Linked DNA regions of Homo sapiens: region 2 is reported to be linked to region 1. Evidence: microRNA targets listed by miRTarBase, many of them from high-throughput screens and not tested one by one. Region 1 holds a microRNA gene; the other region holds the end of a gene's coding sequence.
The links. The annotated mature microRNA hsa-miR-3613-3p reads ACAAAAAAAAAAGCCCAACCCUUC and lies in region 1 at 1,478-1,501, shown strand. An mRNA with a match to its seed (bases 2 to 7 or 8) in the 3' UTR can be bound and repressed. Matches are read on the target gene's strand: a 7mer-m8 pairs with bases 2 to 8, a 7mer-A1 pairs with bases 2 to 7 and ends in A, and an 8mer does both.

Region 2: the mRNA of TRMT112 is a reported target of hsa-miR-3613-3p. Seed matches in the 3' UTR shown: 7mer-A1 at 825-831.

What each region holds. Positions count from the first base shown.
Region 1 is chr13:49,993,572-49,997,926 of GRCh38, reverse strand. It overlaps MIR3613 (microRNA 3613), which reads left to right and starts at 1,426; the gene lies at 1,426-1,512. It overlaps TRIM13 (tripartite motif containing 13), which reads right to left and starts at 885. Exons shown (of 2, transcript NM_213590.3): 1 at 164-885. DLEU2 (deleted in lymphocytic leukemia 2) reads left to right here. Exons shown (of 14, transcript NR_152566.1): 11 at 508-853; 12 at 3,966-4,134. RefSeq lists silencers at 1,149-1,278, 1,869-1,918 and an enhancer at 1,459-1,588.
Region 2 is chr11:64,313,424-64,317,567 of GRCh38, reverse strand. It overlaps TRMT112 (tRNA methyltransferase activator subunit 11-2), which reads left to right and starts at 9. Exons shown (of 4, transcript NM_016404.3): 1 at 9-119; 2 at 203-304; 3 at 421-510; 4 at 600-1,108. The coding sequence starts at 42. The coding sequence ends at 707. It overlaps ESRRA (estrogen related receptor alpha), which reads right to left. Exons shown (of 7, transcript NM_004451.5): 3 at 3,501-3,617; 4 at 3,201-3,329; 5 at 2,657-2,827; 6 at 2,298-2,567; 7 at 825-1,861. The coding sequence ends at 1,602. RefSeq lists an enhancer at 990-1,505.

The sequences.
Region 1 (4,355 bases):
TTTTTCTAAGTTTTAACAAAATATGCAAAGAACAAAGACCACCAATGAAAGTGGATGGGAACATACGTATTCTACACACAGTTCCATTTTGGAAGGTTCTAGGGCCTATTGAAATTGGGTGTTTAAAAAAAAAAGATAACACAGGAAAATTATTGTAGTTTACCTCTGTCTCCTACAAGCTGATGTATTTGGCAGGGTTACTATTTCCCAGGGCAAAGCAGGTCTTTTTTTTCACGTTTTGACTAACGAACTAGAGGCTACTGCAAAGAAAGAAGAAAAAGAACAGTATTAACGCATTTATTTGCACAGCACCCCAATCTTGACCCTCAATTTTTTCAATCGCCCCCACAAATAAAGCCCGGCTGTTTAGACCTGGTGAACCGCCAGGAGCCTGGAGCTCTTTGTATTAAGCAGCTTCTCGGTTAGGGCGCCCTCCCCCGGCGCCATGCAACCAAACGCTGGCGGCGCGCTGTAACCTAAGGCCCACACCCGTCTTTTCTTTTCTAGGGGATGTGGAGACGCTGGTAGCGGGGCCAGGAAGGCTCCGGACGGAGCAGGTTTTCTGGACCACAGACACACTGCCCCGGCGCCCTCCGCAGGCCGCTCCTCCCCAGGCCCATGACAGTGCCCCGCTGGTTTCTGCCGCGCTGCCGGACTGGAGCTCAGACGGCCTTCGCCAGCCCCCCCAACCCACGCAGATCCCTGCTGACCTGGGCAACTCCCCACCCTCGCTGAAGGTTCGAGGACCACCCCGCTTTCCCGAGAGGAGCCGGGCGGCGGGTACTTATCTCCGACCTCCGGCTAGTGGGAAAGGCCGCGCGACCGCCCGTCCTCCAACTACAGGGACCGCACGGTACGCGCCAAGCACAGCCCCAAAATGGACTCGCGGCTCCGGCTAGCTCCGCCCCCTTCCCTCTCCCGCTTCCCCTTCCCCTCCCGTCCCTTCCCCCTCCCCTCCCGTCCCTTCCCCCTCCCCTCCCGTCCCTTCCCCCCTCCCCCTCCCTTTCCCCTCCCCCTCCCCCTCCCTTTCCCCTCCCCCTCCCCCTCCCTTCCCCGTCGCCCGCCTCCGCCTGCACCTCCGGCCCCGCCTCCCCGTCCCGCTTCGCCTGTGTCCCGCCTCCCCGGCCGCGCCTCGCCTTGGCGGAGGGAGCCGGGTGGTGAGACCGCGTTCCTTCCGGCGTCTCCAACCGCCGCCTGCTCCCGCCGTCCACCCGCGCGGGCCGCCTGGGACGGGGAGGGCCGGGCTGCGGGCTTTTCTCCCTTCCAGAGTCCTGCGCCCGCCCAAAGCCCCCCCGCAGAGGCTGGGCAGCGGCTCCGGGAAGTGGACGCCGTTTGCCCAGACGGTGGGCTCGACTGAAGCGGCGCGGTCCCGGGTGGGGCCGCCCGGGAAGAAAGTCTCCCAGTTAAGCTGCCGTGCAATTAAGATGGTTGGGTTTGGATTGTTGTACTTTTTTTTTTGTTCGTTGCATTTTTAGGAACAAAAAAAAAAGCCCAACCCTTCACACCACTTCATCCGCATCTCAAGACCAGAAGCCGACCCCAGCGGCTTGGGGAAATGGAGCCCCGCACCCCACAAGGGGGAGGGTGGGACGGGCACCTCCGCACTGCGCGGCCTGCGGAGTCACCGATTCGCGTTGGGAGCGCGCCAGGAGCGCCAGGGCTCTAGCCGGGGGCTCCGGGCAAGGCGCAACCAGAAAAGGGTTCAGTATCCCCCATCACCCCCACCCCCAACCGTACCCTCTTTCTTTGCGGGCTTTAGGCAGGACACCAGAGACCCAATTCTATTTAAAATTCTCTTTTAAGAAAAGGAACGCCTGTTTTTGCCTTTGGGGGAAAGGATGAACTTTCAAATTGGCTTTAAATTATCCACCACTAACAGTTACTCAGTCGATAACCTGACTATTCTGACGTCCACCTCCCGTTTGAGGACCTTGCCCAATAGCAAACGTACTAAGCACTTAACCAGTGAACGGTGTGAAGGATGCAAACATGGATGATGAAGGAATGGCTCCTCCAGAATTTACGATCTTGGGAGAAGTGAGGCGAGTATAGAATCTCAGAACACGCTGTAGGATTGAGTTCGATCCCAGTTGAGGAAGTTTGGGTTTGGGGAGGAAATAGGTTATTTTGGAGAAACGGTATTCAAAACCTACCATAAATAGCAGTACAGCCCGTTGACTAATAATGCTTAGCCCAACCCCCGTAAAAAGCCCCTGGCCACATCCGTCTCCTGAGATTCCCACTTCTCTGTGTGCATCTCCCTTCCTGCTATAAGAAACCTAACTTTGCCTTCGTAGAACACTTCTTTTAATTTCTGTCATTCAGTCTCATAACACTGTGTAAAAGAAATTATGATCTTCATCCTATATAGATGAGAAAACAGGTGAAGTGACTTTTCCAAGGTACAAAAGCAAGAGGCAGAGCTGAGGCTAAAGGCAGCTTCCAGATATGGGCTCTTTCTACAGCACCATAACTGTCAGTGACAAAACTGCACCCCAGTACCTTACTAAATTTAGTGTTTTTAGGCCAGGCACGGTGGCTCACGCCTGTAATCCCAGCACTTTGGGAGGTCGAGGCGGGCAGATCACCTGAGGTCAGGAGTTCCAGACCGGACTGACCAACATGGTGAAACCTGGTCTCTACTAAAAATACAAAAATTAGCCGGTCATGGTGCCGTATGCCTGTAGTCCCAGCTACTTGAGAGGCTGAGGCAGGAGAATAGCTTGAACCCGGGAGATGGAGGTTGCAGTGAGCCGAGATCCTACCACTGCACTCCAGCCTGGGCAACAGAGCAAGACTCCGTCTCAATAACTAAATTAATTAATTAATTTAGTGTTTCTAAAAAAACAAAGTGATCTGTAGAAACATCTCATTTATTTGTTGTCATTGTGTGTTGATTGATTTTGAGACAGGGTCTATCTCTGTCCCCCAGGCTGGAGTGCAGTAGCATGATCATGGCTCACTACAGCCTCAAGCCCCTGGGCCCAAGTTATCCTCCTCCCTTAGCCTCCCAAGTAGCTGGGACCACAGACATGCGCCACCACGCCTGGCTAATTTTATTTTTTGTAAAGATAGAGTCTCACTATGTTGCCCAGGCTGGTGTCAAACTCCTGGGCTCAAGTGTTCCTCAGGCCTCAGCCTCCCAAAGTGCTGGGATTACAGGCGTGAGCCACCACACCCAGCCATATGGAAACATTTCAGATATCCTAATATTAAAATGATATTTCACAAGACTGGACAGTTATTAACTCATGTGAAAGGAAAATCTTGGGGCCCCAAAATCACTAAGCTAAAGGAAAAAGTCAAGCTTCGGAGAACTGCTTAGGGCAAACCTGCCTCCCATTCTATTCAAAGTCATCCCTCTGCTCACTGAGATAAATGAATATCTGATTGCCTCCTTTGGAAAGGGTAACCAGAAACTCAAAAGAATGCAGTGATTTGCCTCTTATCTCCCTAAAACCTGGAAGCCCGCCCCCTGTTTTGAGTTGTCCCACCTTTGCTTCAAGTCGTCCCACCTTTTCTGGACTGAACCAGTGTTCATCTTACACACGCTGATTGATGTCTCGTGTCTTCCTAAAATGTACAAAACCAAACTGCTCTGACCACCTCGGGTTCTGACCTCCTGAAGCTGTATCATGGGCACGCATCCTCAACCGTGGCAAAATAAACTTTCTAAATTAACTGGGACATGGCTCAGATTTTTAGGGTTCACACGCAAAACCCACAAATTATCCTTAATATAATTATATAATATATATTTATGTAGTTAGATCTGGTTGGTGGTAGATACTAATACACTTTTGCCCAACTAAGTGTAAAACACATTAAATCTGTATAGCAATCTCTAGACTATTACACAAAATTAACTACTAACTAGAAAACACAGTATATTAAATTCTCTTAAGTGTGGAAAAATGGAGAAGGAAGAATAACCTTTTCTCTCCTCCCGTGGTCCTAATACACAGAACAGCGACTGGGAAACTGCCACTAGAAAAAGATGACTGTCCAACTAAAACCTGCATACACAGCTACATCCTTCCCTGGAAGAGCACAGTGGAACTAGATCCTAGTACAGATAGCACAGGGATTGTCAACATTCTTGTCACACTGAAATTTCCTTCTACTGATCTCCAAGTAAGTAACTAACAGCTGAAACTTGGAATTTATATATCAGCACAGCACGAAGACTATAGATATATCTAGTCTTATGTAAGTTTCATATTGTGTGATAAATGTATTGCCCCCCCCGCCCCCGAATGCCGGCCCCTTGAGAAATATATTTTTACAGGGTAGAATTTCTAATATATATAAAATGCATAATGTTAAATAATGTTTATATATTAATATGTTATATA
Region 2 (4,144 bases), not on the chromosome of region 1:
CCTTTTTCCGGTTCCGGCCTGGCGAGAGTTTGTGCGGCGACATGAAACTGCTTACCCACAATCTGCTGAGCTCGCATGTGCGGGGGGTGGGGTCCCGTGGCTTCCCCCTGCGCCTCCAGGTACCCGCCGGCGGCAGTCTTCCCTTTTCGGGCGGGATGGTGGGCCGGGGTCCAGTGCTTGCCTAAACTCCTCCGCCCTGCAGGCCACCGAGGTCCGTATCTGCCCTGTGGAATTCAACCCCAACTTCGTGGCGCGTATGATACCTAAAGTGGAGTGGTCGGCGTTCCTGGAGGCGGCCGATAACGTGAGGATCCTTACCCCGCCCCAGCATATCCCGGGGAATGCGGGGCGGGCACACCTCAGCCGGGCTGAGGCGGGAGTTCGGGATGCCCGGAGATAATTTTGGCCTCTTGCCCACAGTTGCGTCTGATCCAGGTGCCGAAAGGGCCGGTTGAGGGATATGAGGAGAATGAGGAGTTTCTGAGGACCATGCACCACCTGCTGCTGGAGGTGAGAAGCGGCCCATCACTTGCTTCCCGGGCCACCTGCCTCCCGCACTGAGGCTGCCAGTGCTCAGCTCTGTCCCTCCCTGCCCGCAGGTGGAAGTGATAGAGGGCACCCTGCAGTGCCCGGAATCTGGACGTATGTTCCCCATCAGCCGCGGGATCCCCAACATGCTGCTGAGTGAAGAGGAAACTGAGAGTTGATTGTGCCAGGCGCCAGTTTTTCTTGTTATGACTGTGTATTTTTGTTGATCTATACCCTGTTTCCGAATTCTGCCGTGTGTATCCCCAACCCTTGACCCAATGACACCAAACACAGTGTTTTTGAGCTCGGTATTATATATTTTTTTCTCATTAAAGGTTTAAAACCAAAAGCGGTTTCTCTTTGCAGCAAATATACATTAAAATAGAGTCTCTGTACAGCCAAGGGCTCTGGGCCCTGGCTTGCCCCATGTCCCTGCGCCTCCCTGGCCAAACCCAAAAATAAATATAGTGTTATTGCTCTGCAGGGCATAGAGGCAGTGCTCTCCTACCCCCTGAGGAGGCTCGTTGGGAGCTGATGGGGAAGCCCTGGCCACCCCAGGGGTCCAGGGGCTGGAGTCTGCTTGGAGTTATTGCTTCAAGGGGGGACACTAATGCCCAATGCAAATGATGAGAGGAGGAGCGAAGGGGGCATGGGCCTTTGCTCTCCAAGTCCCACTCTGCTTTGAAGAGGGGGTAGGATTAAGCAGCAGCAAAAGCATCACCCACTGGGAGACTCTGGCCTCCATCCCCTTCCCTCCCTGAGATAGGTTTCTGCCTCCCACGCATCCCGTGCAGCCCCCTATGGCTTCCGCAAGGCCCCCTACACTCTGGGGGCACGTTATGGCTTGCAAGGGGCAGCACTGTGCCCAGAGCCTGGACACACGTTCCCAGCTTCTGACACCCCCTAGGAGGGGGAGGAGAGGGCGTGGGGCCTGTTCCCAGGGGCTGATGGCATTGCCCTGGCCCTGCCAGCAGGCTGTGGCACTGCCCAGACCCCAGCTCCGCCCCAGCCCTTGGGGCTGACCCCATGCTAGGCAGGTCCTGCCAGAACCCCCACCAGTCCCACCCCTTGCCTCAGTCCATCATGGCCTCGAGCATCTCCAAGAACAGCTTGTGCATGGGCACCTTGCCCTCCAGCTTCACCCCATAGAAATGGGCCAGCACTTTGCCCGCTGTCTGGCGGAGGAGCGGTAGCGTGAGCAGCAGCCTGCCCGCCCGCCGCCGCTCAGCACCCCCTCCGGGGCCAGCCCGGCCGGCTTCATACTCCAGCAGGGCCTCGTGCAGAGCTTCTCGCAGCTGCTCCACAGCCTCGGCATCTTCGATGTGCACAGAGTCTGCAAGAAGAGAGGAATGTGGTGTTGGCCTGGGCTATCTCTGGCAAGGGCACTCCCCGTATCTTGAGCACTGCTGGATGGGGCCTAAGGAAGAGCCAAACGAGGATTTGTTGATTGGCTGACTGAGAGGCACCACTCATTGCTGCGGCTCGTGGGCCAGGACCCCACCCTCTCTCCCTCAACTGTGGCCACCTTGTACCCTCCCCACCTTCCCTCCCACTAAATGACCTTTCTGCATTAGTGTGGCACTAGGGCTCAAAATCCTGTGTGCAGTTTGGAGCCTGCACTTGGCTTGCTTTTTGACTTCTAGCAAGTCATTGTTCTTCCCTAAGCCTCAGTTTTCGTTATCTGCAAAATGGGGCTGTGCTACCGTCACTGAGTTAACCTGAAGACCTTACGGAGACACCTCACCTGTCAGTGCCTGCCCCAGACTCACCTGAATTGGCAAGGGCCAAGGCCTTTAGTAGAACATACTCCTCTCGCTCCAGCCGCAGGGCCTGCAGCCGCCGCACTAGTTGCAGCAGGGCAGCCCCCAGTTCCCCCAGGCCAGCTGCCCGTGCCCCCTCTTCATCCAGGACTAAGTCCTCAGCGAAGGCCAGCTCATCCTGCAGTGGCAGTGAGCGCTGGGCCACACCCAGCACCAGCACCTCCATCCACACGCTCTGCAGTACTGACATCTGGTCAGACAGCGACAGCGATGAGAAGCCTAGGGGGCAGCGGGGAGCGGGCCTGGCTGAGCAAGCGCACCAGAGCCGGGCCCGTTCAGGGCAGCCCCGGGTCACCTGGGCCCTTTACCTGGGATGCTCTTGGCCCAGCTGATGGTGACCACAATCTCTCGGTCAAAGAGGTCACAGAGGGTAGCCACGGCTGGGAGGTGCCCATCAGGGCCTGCGGGGTCAGGCATGGCATAGAGCTTCTCAGGCTCAACCACCAGCAGATGAGACACCAGTGCATTCACTGGGGCTGCTGTGACAATTAGAGGACAAGAGTCAGGAGCACTCGAATCTGTCAGGCCTCAGGGGTCAAGCATCTTCCCACAGTGGCTCCCCCTGTGGCCTTCCTCAGTAGCAGCTGTCCAGTGACTTCCCTCCAGGGAAGAGCGCTAACTGTCTCCCAGGGAAAGCCCGTGTGTTTGTGGACAGGCTGTGAGTGTTGGAAAATCGTCCCTGTTCCCAGTTCTACTACTTTTCCTGATGCAGGAAAAGGCAGTTTCACATGTCTTGGGGAAATGAGTGAGTGAAGAGACGAAGGGGAAATACAGGTCCCAGTGCCCAAGGTAACTATGATGCCACACATAGGCCTCCGGTTTCGTAGCCCCAGGTACCCACAGTGCTCTCACCTGTCTTCCGGGGGCCTCCAGCGACTGCCAGGGGCCCAGCAGGGAAGGGGCCCGGGAAGGGCAGTGGGTCCACCTCCGGCCGCCGCTTGTACTTCTGCCGCCCACCCCGGACGCGGTCCAGGCGCACTCCTTGAATTGTGGGACAGATAGGACTGTGACTGTGGTGCTGTGGGCAGGGTGGGGCTTGCTCTCCAGAGCTGTCCTCCCCGAGTCCACTCACCAGAACTCCCAGGCCTCACCCCCACCTGGCCCGGGTCCCCGACTCCCCCAGCCCTCGCCCAGCCCCTGCCCAGCGCTCACCCTCCTTGAGCATGCCCACCCGCAGGCACTTGGTGAAGCGGCAGGCCTGGCAGGCCTTGCGTCTCCGCTTGGTGATCTCACACTCGTTGGAGGCCGGACAGCTGTACTCGATGCTCCCTGCCAGGAAGAGGCAGGGCTCCAGTGGCGGCCTCCCGGGGCTGGGAGGGGACCCAGCTGACAGGAGAGCCCTGACTCTCCCCGGGCAAGCACAGGTCTGGGGGTATGGGGAGGAAAGGGAGAGCAGGGGGCCATGAGCAGGCAGGGAGGGGAGTGGCTGCTGGGCGGGGGAGCCCTGCCTGGATGAGGGAGGAGCTGGACCAGGCAGCGGGGCTGCATCTCAGCCCCAAGCCTCATCTCTGGACCACACTGCCCTCATCTGCCGACATCAAGGGCCACAAGGACCTCTGCATTGCTAAATCCAGTGGTCAATTCTTAGTCCTCATGTTACTTGGCCTAAAAGGAGGATCTAAGGCTGTTGATCACTTCCTGCTCCTAGAAACACTGAAACACTTTCTTCTTTTGCTTCTAGGACAGCATACACTCTGGTTTTCCTCCCACCGCACCAGCCACTTTGTGGTTTCTGAGCATCTTCCCAAGCTCTTCCATCCAGACTGCCAGGGCTGTCCTTGGAGCTCATCTCCAAT